Linked DNA regions of Homo sapiens. The protein of the gene in region 2 purifies or fractionates together with the protein of the main gene of each other region. This does not show direct contact. Each region holds a gene or a part of one and is shown on either strand. Other genes may lie near its edges.

The links.
Region 1: the proteins of ABCD3 (region 2) and MARCHF5 purify together in Homo sapiens (affinity purification with western blotting, with the first as the bait; one study listed by BioGRID). This does not show direct contact.
Region 3: the proteins of ABCD3 (region 2) and MPV17 fractionate together in Homo sapiens (co-fractionation; one large-scale study listed by BioGRID). This does not show direct contact.

The regions. Positions count from the first base shown.
Region 1 is NC_000010.11:92,311,623-92,315,271, forward strand, and holds part of MARCHF5 (E3 ubiquitin-protein ligase MARCHF5), read left to right. Parts: intron 1-3,649. UniProt on the Homo sapiens protein: Mitochondrial E3 ubiquitin-protein ligase that plays a crucial role in the control of mitochondrial morphology by acting as a positive regulator of mitochondrial fission and as an important regulator of immune response.
Region 2 is NC_000001.11:94,498,359-94,502,007, forward strand, and holds part of ABCD3 (ATP-binding cassette sub-family D member 3), read left to right. Parts: intron 1-243; coding exon 244-321; intron 322-424; coding exon 425-490; intron 491-586; coding exon 587-676; intron 677-1,136; coding exon 1,137-1,256; intron 1,257-3,649. UniProt on the Homo sapiens protein: Broad substrate specificity ATP-dependent transporter of the ATP-binding cassette (ABC) family that catalyzes the transport of long-chain fatty acids (LCFA)-CoA, dicarboxylic acids-CoA, long-branched-chain fatty acids-CoA and bile acids from the cytosol to the peroxisome lumen for beta-oxydation.
Region 3 is NC_000002.12:27,308,950-27,313,204, reverse strand, and holds the end of MPV17 (mitochondrial inner membrane protein Mpv17), read left to right. Parts: intron 1-95; coding exon 96-211; intron 212-432; coding exon 433-525; intron 526-615; coding exon 616-711; intron 712-958; coding exon 959-991; intron 992-1,253; coding exon 1,254-1,306; intron 1,307-3,223; coding exon 3,224-3,293; 3' UTR 3,294-3,713; downstream 3,714-4,255. UniProt on the Homo sapiens protein: Non-selective channel that modulates the membrane potential under normal conditions and oxidative stress, and is involved in mitochondrial homeostasis.

The DNA.
Region 1 (3,649 bases), on a different chromosome or scaffold from region 2:
TAATAAAAAGCTGACTTTTAAAAAAAAAACTAACTTAGCTTAATTATCTGGAGACGGTGTAAGAGAAAGAAAGCAGTAGTATGTTCTAATACTTCTCCTTAATTCTTCCTTTTAAGGAATAAAAGTAGAGAAATTAAATATTTAATAAGATGTGACGTTAAACTCATCTTTGGAATCCAATTTATGTGGTTTCTTTCATGAACCCTGCTATCCCTTTTCTGTGAAGTGGCAGGTAAGAAATAACCAAAGATCTTTGAGAACAGGCCTAGCATGGAAAAAAAGTATAGCAGACTGCTTACAAGAAGCATTCTAAGGCTGCTTCTTTAGCAGCAGTATAACTAAGGCTGATATTTAGTGAGCCTGTTCCATTACAGCCATACAGTTATAAATTGGTGTCAATCTCTTGGTTTGGTGTTTATACCATGCCAGTTGTTAAACATTTTTTTATAACCCTTGACTGTAACCAAGAGGTATAGGAAGGCAGCTTGGGTTCTGGGAAGGTCATAAGGAAAGAATGTCTTTGGGGGCAGAGGGAATTCAGGAAAAATTGGAAATAATTATTATATATATTGTTTTTTATAAGTGCTATTCATACTGAAATCAGACCAATGTTTTTGAAAATGTGGCAACATAAATGCAGATAATGAAGTGCTTTTCTAATATGAGAAGATTAATAATAAGGGCAAACAAAATGTCCTTGGTTCTCTGTTTTTCTCTAACATGCACAGGAAGAAATGATAGCTTCCTTTGAAGGGGAAGTAGTGTAGTAGAGAAAGTAGTGTTTTCAAACATTTGGAATTTGTGGACCATGTGATGGGTCTTCAGTGCATACCACTGATTTTAGATAAACACAAAAGAATAATTCAAAATGTTTTTATTGTAAGATCAAAGAAGTATTTTTAAATCAGTATCAGGAAAAGCAATGATTGTTCACATTATTGTACCACCACATGAATGGTGAAAGACTCACTAAAGTCCAAGTTAAGGTTTCATATTTAACTGATTTCTTTTCTTGCTCTTAGTTGTACTAAATTAGATAGCCCCACCTTTGAATTATAGAGTTGGGAAGAGCAACAATTAAATATTTCTATTAGATGTTTTAGATATTCAAATGGACACAAAAATTATTACAAGAATTCTCACTGAAAACTACATCAAGTTGACAAGTGTATGGCACTCGAAAGCAAAGTTGAGTATTTTAATTTTGGAGATGGCAATGTGTAGATCTGTCCTTTTGGTTGAATTCAGTTCTAGGAAATATGTTTTCAGGTTTAGTGCAGTAATTGAATATGGTTTTAAGTCTACCTAGTTGTTAGAAAAGAGTAAATCTTGGCTGGGCGTGGCGGCTCACGCCTGTAATCCCAGCACTTTGGGAGGCAGAGGCGGGCAGATCACGAGGTCAGGAGTTCGAGACCAACCCGGCCAATATGGTGAAACTATGTCTTTACTAAAAATACAAAAGTTAGCTGGACATGGTGGCGTGTGCCTGTAGTCCCAGCTACTCAGGAGGCTGAGGCAGAAGAGTTGCTTGAACCCAGGAGGCAAAGGTTGCAGTGAGCCAAGATCGTGCCACTGCACACAAGCCTGGGCGACAGAGCCGAGACTCCATCTCAAAGAAAAAAGAAAAGAGTAAAACTCTTTGGTTAAGCCATTTGTATCATTATTTAGTCTGCATATTTTGTTACTAAGAATTGTGGCCGGGCCGGGCGCGGTGGCTCACACCTGTAATCCCAGCACTTTGGGAGGCCAAGGCTGGCAGATCACGAGGTCAGGAGATCGAGACCATCCTGGCTAACACAGTGAAACCCCATCTCTACTAAAAATACAAAAAAATTAGCCAGCCTTGGTGGCAGGTGCCTCTAGTTCCAGCTACTCGGGAGGCTGAGGCAGGAGAATGGCGTAAACCCGGGAGGCAGAGCTTGCAGTGAGCCAAGATAGCGCCACAGCACTCCAGCCTGGGAGATAGAGCGAGACGCCGTGCTAAAAAAAAAAATTGTGGCGGGTCACAGTGGCTCACACCTGTAATCCCAACACTTTGGGAAGCTGGGGCGAGTAGATTGCTTGAGACCAGCCTGGGCAACAGGGTGAAACTCCATCTCTACCAAAAATAACAAAAAAAAATTAGCTGGGCATGGTGGCACACACCTGTAGTCCCAGCTACTCAGGAGGCTGAGGTGGGAGGATTGCCTTAGCCTGTGAGGTGGAGGCCACAGTGAGCTGTGATTGCGCCACTGTACTCCAGCTTGGGAGACAGAGTGAGACCCTGTCTGAACAACAAAAAAGAATTGTGGCCAGTCATGGTAGCTCACATCTGTAATCCCAGCACTTTTGAGGCTCAGGTGGGTGGATTGCTTGTGGTTACGAGGTCAGGATCAGCCTAGGCAACATAGCAAAACCTTGTCTCTCTACAAAAAAGAAAAAGAAAAAGAAAAAAAATTAGCCAAGTGTGATGGAGCACACCTGTTGTAAGTCCTAGCTACTCGGGAGGCTCAGCTGGGAGGATCACTTGAGCCCAGGAGTTTGGGGCTGCATTGAGCTATGATTGCGCCACTACCCTCTAGCCTGGGTGACAGAGTGAAACCAATCTTAAATAAAAGAGAGAATTATAATTTTACTCTCAAATGATATGTTCAAGCTGGTCACTATACTGTCTGTCATAGAGGTATGGCACTTGAGTTAGCCGCTTAAAATCATAGATATGTTTTAATGACATCAGTGTTATAAAAAAAAATGAATATCCGCTGGGCACGGTGGCTCACGCCTGTAATCCCAACACTGGGAGGCCAAGGCAGGCGGATCACCTGATATCAGGAGTTCAAGACCAGCTTGGCCAACATGGTGAAACCTTGTGTCTACTAAAAATACAAAAATTAGCCAGGCGTGGTGGCAGGCGCCTGTAATCCCAGCTACTTGGGAGGCTGAGGTAGGACAATCACGTGAACCTGGGAGGCAGAGGTTGCTGTGAGCCAAGCTCACACCATTGCACTCCAGCCTGGGCGACAGAGCAAGACTCTGTCTCAAAAAAAGAAAAAAAAAAGTATATCCTTCATTTGAGTAGGTATTGTTAGCATATTTCCTCTTGACAAAACAGAAAAACAGAGTATTTGCTGCTGCTGCTTCCCCCCGCCCCCCCCCGCCAATAGAGGTTGGGTCTTGCTATGTTGTCCAGGCTTGTCTCAAACTCCTGGGCTCAAGCAATCCACCTACCTTGGCCTCCCAAAGTGCTAGGATCACAGGCATGAGCCACTGTGTGCCCAGCCTGCCGCTGCATTCTTAACATGCTGAAGATACCTATTCAAGGGCTGCAATTTTAATTATATTCACAATTTTCCATGCAGTTATTAACAATGACTCAAGCCAGCTGTTGTCTGTAAATGAAGCCATGTGTGAATTGGCTTTCAGGTGGTGGGCTCTTCATTGCTGCACACAAAGCTAGTGCTCTAGCTATGCTGATTCCAGCACAACTTTTCAATTCAAGTTTCAAAAATAATTGTTGGTTAAAAGAAAATATCTTCTTCTAAAACTTTTAAAAAGTTGCTTGTATTTCTTGATTAACATGTTACATTCGTATATACTAAGAGTTGATTCGTACTCTGTACGCTAGTGGCTTCATGCAGCCATTAAACAAAATACTTAAGAGCCTGCATCT
Region 2 (3,649 bases):
ACAGTACCCAGCAATAATAATTTTTTAAGTGAAAAAAAAGTAATGGTAAAAATTGGAAGTAAACAAAGTAAAAGGTCCCTTCACAATACCTCTTCACTGCTCTACCTAATGCTACATTTACAGACAAATAGAAGGCTTATAATTAGCCAGGAGCTATTAATATTTGAGTCTAAGGAAATGTTGATTAAGTATATGTTAATTTGATTTAATTACTTCACAGACTGATTTTTTTTTTTTTTTCAGGTTCGATCTGGGGCTAATGTTCTAATTTGTGGTCCAAATGGCTGCGGAAAGAGTTCACTTTTCCGTGTTCTTGGTGAAGTAAGTACAAGTTGGCCTCAAAATTTTGCAGTCTTATTTTGCCATACTGTCTACCACTTTGTAAATTTTACAATTGTTCTTCTCCCTTCTCTCTCTTTAATAGTTATGGCCTCTTTTTGGAGGACGTCTAACTAAACCTGAAAGAGGAAAATTATTTTATGTTCCTCAGGTAAGACCTAGCTTGAGTTATCTTTGATCTAAAGATCTTTTTGTTTATTTATTTTTTCATGTTGCTTCTAATTGACTTTTGCTCTACTACTGTCAGAGACCTTACATGACCCTTGGAACACTTCGAGATCAAGTGATATATCCAGATGGACGAGAAGATCAGAAAAGGAAGGGAATTTCTGACCTAGTAAGGGAATGTTTATATCCTAGATCCACTGAAAATACTCCAGATTATTTATTTTAATCAATTAAGTATTTTAAATGCCAGGTAGTTTATCTTAAGCTGTAAAGCCTTCCAAAGCTGTAAATTGTGATTTTCTAAGCTGAGGTAAGATGTTAATCCCTTGGCTTAAAAAGAGTTTAATCTTAACCTTTACACCATTGTTTGTTTTCTCATTGCCATCATCCTTTTACTGTGTACAATAGTGTTATTCTCTTTAAGCTACTAGACATATTTTGTCAAGTTTGGTGTAGATACTAGGAGCTGAAAGGTTCAGGGCTACCTTGTGCCACATTCTTTTCTGAAATGTATCTTTTAAGTGGTACAGACAATAGAATTATAGTGATTCCAGTTTAAAAAATAAACCACTATTAAGAATGTTGGCTTATATTAAGTTTAATTTCATCTTTAATCATTTTGCTGAAAGGTACTGAAGGAATACTTAGACAATGTCCAGTTGGGTCATATCCTTGAACGTGAAGGAGGCTGGGACAGTGTTCAGGATTGGATGGACGTACTCAGTGGTGGAGAAAAGCAAAGAATGGCGGTAAGTATACTGTGAAGAAGTTGCACAAGAATGCAACTGGTTCCAGCATTTTGATTAATCAGGACACAAAGTTTCATCTTATATTTTTTTATTCAGCAGCTGTTTCAGTATGGATTAGTTTAAATTATCATAAAAGTGCTTGAAAATCTTTAACTTGCATGTAAATTTGGAATTCTGAAAAATTCATAAATACCCTGCCAGTATCTATGAAAGGAAAAGCTGCAGATCCGACTATATACCAATAATCCATTTTTCTAAAAGTTCAGAGAAACTCTGTAGCTCATTATTCCTGGGATATAAGGTAATCCTGGCTGGGTTATGAAATTTCTTCTCATGTCTCTTCCCTATAGACATCTCTTTTGTATCACTCAGGCTATTCTTTCTGAAATAGCTGAAGGTATTAGAAACGATCCATTCAAATTTTATCTTTATTCTGTTCTTGCCCTTTTCCTCCACTATTATATGTATGTTTTTGTTTCAAGGTTCAGTATCTACTACTTAAAGTTACTTAGAATTTTTAAGTTTTCCTAATATAAACAAGCATTTGAAAGAAACTACTTTAATTGTTATGATGACTAAACTTGTCTCAAACCAAAAATATGCGCTAAACACTACGTAGTAAGAATGAGACCAGCCTGGGCAACATAGCAAGACCCTTTCTCTACAAAAAAAAATTTAAAAATTATCTGGGCGTAGTGGCACACACCTATAGTCCTAGCTACTGGGAGGCGGAAAGATTGCTTGAGCCCAGGAGTTTGAGGCTGCATTGGGCTGTGATCACACACCGTGGCACTCCAGGCTGGGCGATAGAAGGAGATCGTCTCTCTAAAAATAAATAAATAAATAAAAATTTAAAAAGAACGGTAGTTTGGGTACCTTGTCAAGAGGGGCAACTTCATAAAGAGTCATTTTTTAACTATATATTTCATAGTTTGAATAGATCCAAGCAAGAGATTCTCCTCTCCCCCTGCAGAGTATGGAGATTAGAGAAAACTGTAGCTAAGGAAAGAAAGCAAAAGAAATTGGCTTATGGCAGAATTTCTGACCCATTATATTCAGGTTATATTCCACCTTTTTGTTACCTCCGAGTCCCTGATTTTGCAAGTTGTTTTTCCCAAAATCATACCCACTCTACATGAGGTTAATATTAACCTAATAGTGTGACTTGCCTGGCTAGTGCTATAACGTGAGATGAATCTAGTGTGAAGAGTAAATCATAAATGAGAGAGATAATAGCTATATTCAAAATGGAAATTAGGCTGAAGGAGTGAAAATTTGAAATGATTAGGCATTTCTAGAGTCAATTTAGAAGATGACTATAGAAATAACTGCAAAAAAGAGCTGCAAAATAACTTTAAATTTCTGTACTATGTCTTCAGAGAAAATGGAAGGATGTGGTTCAGAAATGGACACGACGGAAACTCAGAGAATGAATAATGAATGTACTTAAACCAAGGAACAGTGTGTGTGTGGTATAAAAGTACAGGAGGGATAATTTTGATTTGAAGATTAGGAATTCAAAGGCGTGCCCAGAGCAGTGGGGGGCTGAGGCGGGAGAATCACTTCAACCCGGGAGGCATAGGCTGCAGTGAGCCAAGATCATGCCACTACACTCTAGCCAGGGCAACAGAGCAAGACTCTGTCTCAAAAGAAAAAAAAAAAAAAAAAAACACATGATCCATAATAGAGGCGTTTGGGAAATGGGGAAAGCTCACCTGTGACACCACTGCATATATAACTGGAGCATGGCCAAGCCATTGTCTAGAGAATTGAATGTGATGTGTAAAAGAGAGCCTGTTGTTTTGTTTCAGAGGGTGGAAAGGAGAAGGCTAACGCTACAAATACTAACGTTGGTGAAATTAGGTAAAGATTATATATGTGTATTCATTTTACTGTCCTTTCAGTTTTTTGGTAGGATTGAAAATTACCAAAGTAGAAAGTTGAGGGGAAAGTAGGTATTAGAATTTTTAGGAAGAACAGACCTAAAAGGCCTAGCCACTTAGAACAGTGAGTCAGCCAGGGTTGCTCCAGCTAATGTCACAATTTGGGATATCTTGTGTTTCTGACCAAAAGTTATCTTTTCCACTCCATTTTTCTTGCTCTTCCTATTTAGTAATAACTTTTCTTATTTTGAATTATGAAAAAGTATATATGATGGAAAAGTGGAATATTTATTTAAGTATAAATTGGGCCAAACCCCTTTACCAGAGATACCACTGTTATAAAATTTTTAGTGTTTTTTTAATCCATTTTTGTAAATCTTTTTTTTTTTTACCTTAAATTAGCAACTATCCCCCTTTCTCAAATTCCCTGAGATCTCTAGAATATTAATCCTTCCCTTTCCTTACAATTGTTCAGTCCTTTTCTGTCTCTGCCTCCTTTCCTGTCCAGTA
Region 3 (4,255 bases), on a different chromosome or scaffold from region 2:
CAGAGCCTCAGTGGAGGTCAGCAGATGTCCCTCCCTCCTTGGAATGGCAGCCCATCCCAGGAGATGTCCTGACAACACCTGTGTACCCTGCATAGGGTCCCTGATGGGCCTGGGTGACATTATCTCACAGCAGCTGGTGGAGAGGCGGGGTCTGCAGGAACACCAGAGAGGCCGGACTCTGACCATGGTGTCCCTGGGCTGTGGCTTTGTGGTAAGTTCTCCCCTCAACAGGGCTTCAGTGGACTCAACAGTGGTCTTAGTTCTTTGCCATCCTTTGGCTTCCCTTGGACTCTCACACCTAAGCCAACCTGCCGCCCTCTTTTTTCTTAGTGTCCACTTCCCCTATTCTGATACTTGGGGCAGGGAGCTTAGTGAGGTAGAGGCCTAGGGCTCCCTCACTGCAGCCTGCTGCTATCTGGGGTTTACTTCCAGGGCCCTGTGGTAGGAGGCTGGTACAAGGTTTTGGATCGGTTCATCCCTGGCACCACCAAAGTGGATGCACTGAAGAAGATGTTGTTGGATCAGGTGAGCAGGAGAACAGAGTGGGGAGGGTGAGCTGTGTTGGGGGTAGGTGGGGATTTCAGCACTCATAGGACTTTAATTTCTCTTCCCTAGGGGGGCTTTGCCCCGTGTTTTCTAGGCTGCTTTCTCCCACTGGTAGGGGCACTTAATGGACTGTCAGCCCAGGACAACTGGGCCAAACTACAGCGGGTGAGCTGGGCAGGTGTGGAGAATGTCTCTGGCTGGCGGGCTGACAGCCCAGGGGAAGAAGACAGGTTTTACAGGGATAAAAAAGGGGGTAAGTGCAGGTAGGGCCCCAGGCCATGGAGGAGAGGAGCTGAGGGTTATGGTGCAGGAATGTGCTCTTTGAACCCAAGTCTGTGTGTGACATTCATACTGGGAAGTGGGAGCTGCTTGGAGGCGCAAGTGTTAATTTGTTCCTTCTCTGTCTCCCCAGGATTATCCTGATGCCCTTATCACCAACTACTATGTAAGAGCTGACACCTCAACTGCTTGTTCTCCTGCTTCCTTAAGTCTAGAACTGTCCTGGGATTGGGGGGTCCTCCTGACATGGGAAACCCTTCCGTTGGGATTACTCTTTCATTCCCAGGATGGGCACCATAAATAGGGAAGCCATCACCCAACTGTTCACCTTTTTCTTGTGTGCAGAAGTTGGGGTAGGGCCAGGCAAGACAGTGAGTCTGGGGTCAGGTGGTGGGGCAGCCATCCAACCTTTACATTTTCTCTTGCAGCTATGGCCTGCTGTGCAGTTAGCCAACTTCTACCTGGTCCCCCTTCATTACAGGTATGTTGCACCCCTACCCCACCCATCAAGGAAGACCCACGTTACCAACAGTTGGAGACAAAATGATTCTCATTTCAACCTTGAGCTACCTTAGACCCCCAAACGGAACACTGAGCCGTGATCAGAGTTCCTCAGATTCCCAAGCGTGTTATTCAGAATGTCTTGCCATTTCCGGAAACTGTCCCAGAGTGTCTGCCCACTGACCTTCTTCATCTCCCTAGGGAGGATCCTGCTTCTACCACCCTTGTCTCCATCCCACCTGAGCTCCGTCTTTGATGGCATATCTGGAGGGACAGTGGCTGGGGTGCTGCAGCCTAGGTTAGACAGAGAGGTAGACCAGAAGGCCAAGTAGGAGCCTGGTCAGACACTCACAATAAAGACAGTTGCTGAACTGCACCCAAAAAGATAGTGGCACTGAAGATGTGTGGTTCAAATGCTTGAAGGTGAAGGATCGTGGGAACAGGGGAAAATATGGAACGCTTCAGAGGGAACAGGGCCAAAATGTACATGAGTAGCATAGCTAAAACGAATACAGACTGGCTGGGCACGGTGGCTCACACCTGTAATTCTAGCACTTTGGGAGGCTGAGGCAAGAGGTTTGCTTGAGTCCAGGAGTTTCACACCAGCCTGGGCAATATAGTGAGACCTCATCTCTACAGAAAATACAAAAAATTAGCCAGTCACATGGTAACATGTGCCCGTAGTCCCAGCTACTCGGGAGGCTGAGGTGGGAGGATCACTTGAGCCTGTGAGATGGAGGTTGCTGTGAACTGAGATTGTGCCACTGCATTTCAGCCTGGTGACAGAGTGAGACGACCCTGTCTCCAAAAAAAAAAAAAAAAAAAAAAAAAAAAAAGGCTGGACACAGTGGCTCACGCCTGTAATCCCAACACTTTGGGAGGCTGAGGCAGGTGGATCACAAGGTCAGGAATTCGAGACCAGCCTGGCCAATATGTTGAAACCCTGTCTCTACTAAAAATACAAAAATTAGCTGGGTGTGGTGGCAGGTGCCTGTAGTCCCAGCTACTCGGGAGGCTGAGGGAGGAGAATCGCTTGAACCTGGGAGGCGGAGGTTGCAGTGAGCCAAGATCTTGCCACCGCACTCCAGCCTGGGCAACAGAGCGAGACTCCGTCTCAAAAAAAACCCGAAAAAACAAAAAAGGAATACAGACTTATGAACCAAATCCTAAACATTAGGGTCCTTTGCAACACTCTTTGAAACCAGAGCAAGGTTAATTTAAAACAGAAAGATGCTACTTTATATGATAGTCCGTACATTTCGGAAGATGAAATCTCAGCTGGTACAAGACAGATCAATGAACTTAGAAGGGGCCCAGATAGGGGCCCTTTCTGTGATTAACAGAGCTATGCATGGCAAGAGAGCCGCTGAATATTTAGCCTTTGAGGCTCTCAGCCAGGAAACAGAGCTCTGGGATGGCACTAGAATTTGAGCCAGTTGTCCTTTAGTGCAAGCCACACAGGCCCTTCATAGGGTGCTGAAAGGGCTGGGTGTCGTGGCTCACACCTGTAATCCCAGCACTTTGGGAGGCCGAGGTGGGTGGCTCACTTGAGGTCAGGAGTTCGAGACCAGCCTGGCCAACATGGTGAAACCCTGTCTCTCCTAAAAATACAAAAATTAGCCAGGTGTGGTGGAGCACACCTGTAGTCCCAGCTACTTGGGAGGCTGAGGCACGAGAATTGATTGAACCCGGGAGGCAGTGAGCCAAGATTGTGCTACTGCACTCCAGCCTGGGCAACAGAGGAGACTCCATCTCAAAAAAAAGGTGCTGAAGGAAAGAGACCTAAACCTGCCAATCCTTTGTCATGATCCCTCCTTTGCCATTTCATGCTCCCATCTCCAGCCCTTGCTCACTGCTTAGCCTTCCTCCTCTTCATTGTGTTATTCCTGTTCCTTAGGTTGGCCGTTGTCCAATGTGTTGCTGTTATCTGGAACTCCTACCTGTCCTGGAAGGCACATCGGCTCTAAGCCTGCCTCACTCCATCGTTTCCACCTTGCAGTGATGCAGCTTGACCCTGGAACGGTCAGACAACCTCCTCAAAGTGGGCATACCAGTTTCCACGGGGTTGGGTTGCCGGTCAGAGCTTAAGAGGACTAGCACCCTGCAATGCCCCTCTTCACTCTAAAATGTACACTGACTGCTTTAGAGCCCTTGATAATAGTCTTATTCCCACCACATACTAGGCACTCCATAAATATCTGTTGAACCTTCATGACCTTATCAACTTTACACCCATATCCCAGCAAATGCCACTCATCCCCACTCTTCATAGACACATTTGTTACTCTAACCCTGCCTAGGCTTCTTGTAGCTCCAGCTCTTTAGAGACTCCCGGAACCCTTTATATGGTGCCTCAGTAAATATGTTATTAAATATGTAATCCGGAATCTGCAGTGGTAATGAGTAAGTTTTTAAGCAGAAAACTATTGGGGAGTCATTTCTAGAGCTGGAAAGAAGCCAAGAGACCACCAAGCCCAATTTTTTTTTTTTTTTTTTTTTTTTTTTTTGAGACAGGGTCTTGCTCTGTCTCCCAGGCTGGAGTGCAGTGGCGCGATCTTGCCTCACTGCAGCTTCCGCCTCCTGGGTTCAAGCAGTTCTCCTGCCTCAGCCTCCTGAGTAGCTGGGACCACAGGCGCATACCGCCACGCCCGGCTAATTTTTGTATTTTTAGTAGAGATGGGGTTTCGCCATATTGGCCAGGCTGGTTTCAAACTACTGACCTCGTGATCCGCCTGCCTCGGCCTCCCAAAGTGTTGGGATTACAGGCGTGAGCCACCGCGCCTGGCCAAGCCCAGTCTTACAAATGAGGACCCTGAGGTTGGTAGGAGGGAGGTGACCTGTCCACACCAGGAGTTAGCAGAAACTTGAACCCATATTTCTTTGCTGCTCATGGGCAGAGTTACACTGCTGCTATGATTCCCAGGAGAGA